Homo sapiens: one gene and its partner. The protein of the gene in region 1 binds, or shares a complex with, the protein of each later gene. Each region holds a gene or a part of one and is shown on either strand. Other genes may lie near its edges.

What was found.
Region 2: the proteins of RHEB (region 1) and PDE6D are in contact, whole or in part, in a crystal structure (PDB 3T5G), measured with the Homo sapiens proteins. Residues at the interface, in NP_005605.1 of Homo sapiens: Pro2, Gln3, Ser4, Gln57, Asp77, Gln176, Gly177, Lys178, Ser179, Ser180, Cys181; in NP_002592.1 of Homo sapiens: Ile53, Leu54, Cys56, Val59, Val80, Gln85, Cys86, Leu87, Glu88, Glu89, Trp90, Ile109, Glu110, Ala111, Ala112, Pro113, Gln116, Met117, Met118, Leu123, Tyr149.

What each region holds. Positions count from the first base shown.
Region 1 is NC_000007.14:151,513,187-151,516,934, reverse strand, and holds part of RHEB (GTP-binding protein Rheb), read left to right. Parts: intron 1-3,748. UniProt on the Homo sapiens protein: Small GTPase that acts as an allosteric activator of the canonical mTORC1 complex, an evolutionarily conserved central nutrient sensor that stimulates anabolic reactions and macromolecule biosynthesis to promote cellular biomass generation and growth.
Region 2 is NC_000002.12:231,779,756-231,783,503, reverse strand, and holds the start of PDE6D (retinal rod rhodopsin-sensitive cGMP 3',5'-cyclic phosphodiesterase subunit delta), read left to right. Parts: upstream 1-2,221; 5' UTR 2,222-2,389; coding exon 2,390-2,439; intron 2,440-3,748. UniProt on the Homo sapiens protein: Promotes the release of prenylated target proteins from cellular membranes. Modulates the activity of prenylated or palmitoylated Ras family members by regulating their subcellular location.

The DNA of each region.
Region 1 (3,748 bases):
TACTGGCATGTTTGCTTGCAAATGGTGGTGCTGTACCAGAGAAATTTGAGTACCTGTGTTTCTAGATTGTGGTATTTTGTGATGCTGAGCTGTTTGTCCTATATTCTGGGGGTAGAGCCACATAAAAAGCCTCCACACCTTTCTTAGAATGTTCTCTTGATTAAATACATTAAGCCAGTTTGACTAGTAGGATACTTGTCATTGTGATTTGTCATGCCACAAACTTTATTTTTAAAGTTGTCTTCAGATAAAACAAAAAAGTGCTATGTTTGTTTAACTAGTTGGCTTTCTTTTTTTTTTTTTTTTTTTTTTGTGACAGAGTCTCACTCTATCACCCAGGCTGGAGTGCAGTGGCGGGATCTGGGCTCACTGCAACCTCTGCTGCCCAGGTTCAACCGATTCTCCTGCCTCAGCCTCCCAAGTAGCTGGGATAACAGGCGCCTGCCACCCCGCCCAGCTAATTTTTGTATTTTTAGTAGAGACTGGGTTTCACCATCTTGGCCAGGATGGTCTTGAACTCCTGACCTCGTGATCCACCTGCCTCGGCCTCCCTAAGTGCTGGGATTACAGGCATGAGTCACTGCACCCAGCCCACTACTTGGCTTTCCGTTTTCTTTTTTTCTTTTTTTTTGAGTGTTGTCAGAACTACCAATAGGTAAAATATAATTCTCAGGTAGTCTATACAATTCTCCCTGCCAGTCCCCTGTACTTTTCCTGGTATTTACAATGTTAAAGCTTTTAAGGACACGTCACCTATAACTCTGGGAGTCTGGCTTTCAGGGAGTGCTTTGTATTAACTGTTGCCGTGATGGCCAAAAGTACCAGCTCCCTGACATTCCGTTATTTCTACCACAACGGAGTAGTCCCGCGATAGGAAGTAACTCAACTTAAAATGGTAGTGTTACGTAAACTGTCTTCAGCCTGGTACATCTTTCACTGGGATTTTACCTGTACAGAGAGCTTTGGTAACCTAGTTTACCATTAGACCATAATTAAAAGCTGGTTGTCATATATAAGCCTCTTACATACAGTTAATAAGAGGGATGGGATCACAGGCATGTGAAAGATCATAGGGGGAAAATGAAACAGCTTTGTGGTTTGGAAGAAGGCAATTCAGCAAAAGTACTCAAATTATTACTTTGTCAAAATGTTTAGGTAGTATTTAGAGTCTTCATGAGGAAAGATGTCATTAAATATTTGGTTGTTCCCAGCAGATTCTGACTTACTGTTTATTTTTTAAGTTAACCTATCATTTGTTGACACTTTTTATTGAAAAATTGAAAGGCAAAACAATATTTGCTATGTATGACATCTACCAGTATGTGAAATTGTATATTCAGGTGCTTAATATTCTGATGTTGTATACTTGTGGGTGGGGGTAGTCCTGAAGTGCCCACTTTGTATTGAAACTTGAAATTACTGTTTTTCAGTCTCATTCATTGTTCTGCACAAGAGCATAATCAGAATTCAGATTTCTGATTATGGCTTTCCAGTGCCAAATGTTATTTTGCTGTCCATATGGGTTATATCTCTCTGTACTTCATCACCCCAAAAAGAAACTCTGTACTCATTAGCAGTCACTCTCCATCCTGCTTCCCTGTCAGCCCCTGGCAACCACTAATCTTTCTGTTTCTATGAATTTACTTACTCTGGACATTTCATATAAATAAGAACATACATATGTGGTCTTCTGGGGCTGGCGTCTTTTACTTAGTATAATGTTTTCAAGGTTCGTTCATGTTGTAGCATATGTCGCTTCTTCCTGTTTAGTGCTGACTAATATTCTGTCATGTGAGTATACCACATTTTTTCTATGCATTTGTCAATTGGATATGTGGGTGGTTTCTTTTCTTTCTTTTTTTTTTTGGCTATTATTTTTTATTTATTTACTTTTCTGAGGCAGGGTCTTGCTCTGTTGCCCAGGCTGGAGTGCAGTGGAGCTATCATGGCTCACTGCAGTGTCAACCTCCTGGACTCAAGTGATCCTCCTGCCTCAGCTTCCCGAGTAGCTAGGACTGCAGGTGTGCGCCATCACACCCAGCTAGTTTTTTTATTTTTTTGTAGAGGTGGGAACCTTGCTTTGTTGCCCAAGCTGGTCTTGAACTCTTGACCTCAAGCAATCCTCTGGTCTCAGTCTCCCAGTGTTGGGATTACAGGTGTGAGACACCACTTGGAGCTCTACTTTCTGGCTACTATGAATAATAATGTTTTGAACATTCCTGTACAAGCTTTTATGTAGACATGTTTTCATTTCTCTTGGGTACATTCCTAGGAGTGGAATTGCTGGGTCATTATGGTTAACTCTGTGCTTAATATTTTGAAGAACTGTCAGATTTTTTCCAGAACAGCTGCACAATTTTATATTCCCATCAGCAATGTATGAGGGTTTAATTTTCTCCACATTCTCGTCAACAATTGTTACACTGCCTTTTTCATTTTAGCCATCCTATTGGGTGTGAAGTGGTATCATAGGATTTGCAAATAATTTCTCCTGTCTGTGGGTTGTCCTTTTACCTTCTCGATGGTGTCCTTCAAAGCAGAAAGTTTTTAATTTGAAGGCCGATATATCTATTTTTCTCCTGCCACTTATGCTTTTGGTGTCACATCTTAGAAGCCATTGCCTAATCCAAGGTCATATAGATTTACTACTATATTTTCTTCTAGATATTTTATCCTGTTAACTCTTACATTAGATCTGTGATCTATTTGTGGTTAATATTTGTATATGATGTGAGGGAGGGATAGAACTTTATACTTTTGCATGTGGATATCAAGTTGCCCTAGCTTCTTTTGTTAAAATAATGTTCTTTCTTCATTGAATTCCCTTGTCCGAGATGAAGTGACCGTCAATAGAAGAACTCACTCATTCCATTGATCTGTATGTCTGTCCTGCCAGTACCATACGATCTTGATTACTGTAGTTTTGTAGCTGGTTTTTAAATAGGGGCATATGAGTCCTCTAACTTTATTATTTCTGAAGATGTTTTTGGGTATTCTCAGTCCCTTGCATTTCCATATTGAATTTTAGGACTAGATTGCCAGTTTCTGCCAAAAAAGCAACTGCAATTTTGATAAGGTGTTTCACGGTTTTGCAGGTATCTTTTAATGTCTTAACAGCTGGATTCTCATCTCTGCTCCTGAATTCATTCCCTTAACGTTATTTTAATGAAGTAAGGAGTACTTGAATAGTTTTTCAGGTAGTTGAATATTCTTTGATACCGAAACTTCATAAGTGATAGTTTGCAAAGAATAGTTACACTATGCAATCTGAAATCATATTGATGAATTTGCCCAACTCCGCAGGTCTGCTTTATACTTGGAATGGATCTTCTACCATGCCTGGTTTTGTAGCGTTACTGGTCATTTGGAAAATATTTGTTCATCGTTACGCAGATCTTCCACATGTTGACACATTTTATTATACAAGCATTTTTAAAAATCACATTTGTTAATATCACCACCAATCTCTGCAAAGTCTTAAGTTTTAGAACACTGTTCGCTATGAGTGGTGCAAGTTTTCCAAAATTCTAATTTCCTCCTTGAGTTCAAATAATTTCCTTGGCAACATGCTACCAGTTTTTACTTGAATTGACTGTTTTGTTTCTTTAATTTCCAAGAAAATGTCTGCCAGCTATTCACATTTGCAATAATGATAGTTTGTCATCATTCTTGCAAGTAAAAAAGGCATTCCATGATAAAAGTGGCCAGTTCAGATCACTTCTCAAATGACTGCACAAGTGCTTTTTTT
Region 2 (3,748 bases), on another chromosome or scaffold:
CAAATAAATACCTTAATGAGATACCACATTCAGCCAGAACGGCTACAATTAAGAAGACTGACAACAAAACTCTTGTGTTGACAAGGATAAGAGGCACCTAGAACTCTCTCATATTGCTGGCAAAGGCGTAAATTGGTACAATCATTTTGAAAAACTGGCAATGTCTACTATCACTGATCATGTGCATACCCTCCCTACACACTAGCAATTCCTCTCCTAGAAATGTGTGCAAGTGTCTACAAAAAGAAACATGTAAGAATGCTCACTACGGCTTTGCTAATAATAGTCCAAAAAATAACAACCCAAATGCCCGCCAACAGTGGAAAAGATAAATTGTGGTATAAACATACAACAGAATACTATTCAGCAATTAAAAGGCTACACACAACATGGATGAATTTCACAAAAATACTGATAAAGTAAAAAAGCCAGACACATACTGTACATACTGTATTATTATATTTAACTGGAATTCAAGAACAGAGAAAACTGATCTATGGTGATACAGTCAGAAGAGTGATTATCTCAATATGTAAGGATGTAATACTGATTGGGAGGGAGCACTAAGTGTGCTAGAAATGTTCTATATCTTGATTTGGGTAGTGGCGACAGGGGTGTATACCTATGTGAAAATTGTTCCCATACTGTATGTTACACCTCATTAACAAAAAAAAAACTTTTTTAACATGGAAAAAAAATTCAAGTTCAAATGCCACCTTGTCCATTAAAGTTTTGCCAGCTGCAATGAACCTTTTCATCAGGGCCTCCTTAGCATTCTGATGTCATTTCTTTATGCCATTTTATCACACTCCATCTTGAATCTCAGTGGAGTCTCCTTATTTCCCTAAATATATGTTCATCTTCCTGGTGGCAGTGACCATGTCCTTCACCTTTTACCCACTCAGTGCCTGACAAATAACAGGCTGAAAAGATATTTGTTGAATTACATGGAAGAAAAAATTGGGTGAGTTCCCAGATGGGTGAAAGTGGGGACAGGCAGAGGAAGGAAGGCCAAGAGAAGGACAGAGGAGGTTTCCAAGGAAACCGTGGCTCACACTGTAATTTTACCTACTTCCTGAAATCACATTAAATGTCACCTTGAGTGGCAAAAAACAAAACACCAAATCCTACCTAGGCTGAAAATAAATAAATATCACACTCCCTCACTCGCAAGAAATCCACCAAATAAATGCTACCTAATTCTGGGTGTTTCAACAGTGGATAGGAAAACCGTTCAAGGAGAATAATTCACATTGCCATGCTGCTAAAAATATCACCTCCTTAGTGTGGTGCAAAGAGTCCAGACTGCAAGTCAGCCGACTTAGGGCTGAATTCTAACTCTGCCCGAACTTGCTGTGATCTGTGGCCAATCCCTTCGCCTCTCTGGGCCTCAATTTCCTCATACGTAACAACAGGGGATAGATTAGCAAAGTCCCTTTATGTTTTGATATTCTGAGTATACAATCCATAGCTCTCCCGGTGCAAACCAGGAATACAGCAAAAAACCCTGAAATACATGTAAAAGGCGCCTCAGACCAACAAACAAGCACGATTTGAAGAAGTCATTTTGTTCTCTTTCACGGTTTAATCAGTGTTTTTGTTTGTTGTTTGCAGCCTTACCATGATTTGCAGATGTCTGAGTTCCATGTAAACAGAAGTTAACTCTCTGCGGGCTGTCATCTTCTTTTGAGGGTGAGAAGGGTCTTCCCGTTGGGTTTCAAGTCTCGGGATTCCGAAACGACCAACTCAGCGGGCGGGTTTGTGAATTTGCGCACACTGCGCGGCACACTGGAGTCTAAGTTACAGAGGAACCGAGTGCAGGGGATGCTGGGATTTGTAGTCCCCGGGCCTCTTTGTGGTGCGCTGGGATCTGTGGTCCCCCGAGTGCGCCGCTGGAATGCTGGGAAATGTAGTCTCTGTCGCGTCGCACAGTGCAACTCAGCTGCCGTCTCAGACGGCTAGTGTGCTCAGTGGCTGGAGCAGGTCCCTAAAGCCTCTGCAGATCCGAAGCCAACCCTCCGCTGGGACAAACTCTAGGCAACAACACCAGATGAATATTGTGTCCTATGGGACTTCCCGGGGAGGGCCCTTCCCATTGACGTTAACAGTCCCCCTGCGAAGCCGCTGCGCGCTCCTACTGGCTGGTTGAGATGCCAATCGCCAAGGCTGGCTTTCCATTGGTTCCAGGAGGGCACTGCGAGGCTAGGGGGAAGGAGAAGGGATCAGAAGCGGGAGCTGAGGGGAGAGAGAGGCCGGTCCTGGTCTGGCCGCTGCGGCTGCTAGCCCGAGGTCTCCAAGCCGGGCTGCGGCTCCATCCTCGGCTCCTGGGCACCGTCTGCGAGGCTCCGCCGACCAGAGTGAGAAAGCCGCGGGCGGCGACCGCCGCATCATGTCAGCCAAGGACGAGCGGGCCAGGGAGATCCTGAGGGGCTTCAAACTGTATCCGTCCGGGAGCGGGGCGGGGCCGGGAGGACTTGGGAGGCGGCCGCTCACTGAGGAGACTGGCCGGGGGCGGGGGCCGCGCCAGGTGGGCCCCACAGAAGAAGGGCCGCGGGAGGGGAGAGGAAAGGAACAGCGTGCCGAGCACCCGGCGGGACCCGGCGCGAGAGGCGCCCCAAGGGGCGTCCTGAGGGAGGAAGGGGACGTTGACGGGAGCGCCGGGGGGTGGCGGGTGGAGACGGGGGAGCCTGGGGGACGGGGCTGCGAGAGGTGCCGGGCGTCGGAAACGCTGTCGGAGAAGCCGGCTGGGTTCCGATCCCCGGCCGGGACCCAGAGGCCGGGATGGGGCTGCGGCCCGCGGAGAAGGGCTGAGGGGGCGCGGTGGGCTGATCTCGAAGCCTAGAAGCCTCTTTGGCTATAAGCCTACCCGGGGAGCGGGGAACAGTGACTTGGAGCGGGCGACCTTGTGTGGGACAAATACCAGTGCTTTTAAAACTCTCTCAGGTCCCCCACCGCACCGCACCGCACCCCACCCCCGTCTGGTTTCCACAACTTCTCTTCCAAACTTGTGGCTTCTTCCAGGACTGGAGTAGTTGGGGGAGGTGGGGAAAGAGAAGTCCAAGATCGACCTCGTCTTAACACTCTTGGCCTTCTCAGGCATTGGTCACTGCTTCCCCCTCAGCGCCTCAGTTTTCTTTCCAGCAAGATGAGGACCATAGGCTTAGGTGTGGGGTGCCTCGCGCTGGGACTCCTAGCCGAGGTGTCTTTGCTCGCTCCTGTCGGTGCGGTTATGCCTAGCTGTGGTGGAGCTGTCCAGCAATGGTGTGATGTCGCTGGGGCCACGGTAGGATAGAGTGGGGTAGAGAAATCATTGCCTCGGGCCTGTTGTGGTGCCCCTTTTGCATCCTCTCCGTAAGGAAGCTTTGTGTTTTCGTGGAGTGTGTTAGTCTGTCACCATATGATGCAGATGAAAAAATGCAAACTTGGATATTCAAATTTTCCATTCTCCTGCCAACTTTAATCTCTTCATGCATCCTATCTGTAATCTATAGTACGAACGTTCTTAAATTGCTCCCTCAGTGAAAAGGTAGTCACCACTTCAGGGCTCCTCCCTTGGAGGTTTAGTAAAGCACTGTTTTCTTGGTATTCTGTTGCGTTTTCACAATGTCCATGTCACGCTTGCAAATTTAATTGCTTTGCTATAATCAGAAACCAAGTTGGTAATACATTTTAGACCACAGTGCAAAAAGGAAGTTTTGGATGTACAAGTGAGATTTTTCGAATGGAAATTGATCTATGCTTTTTAAAA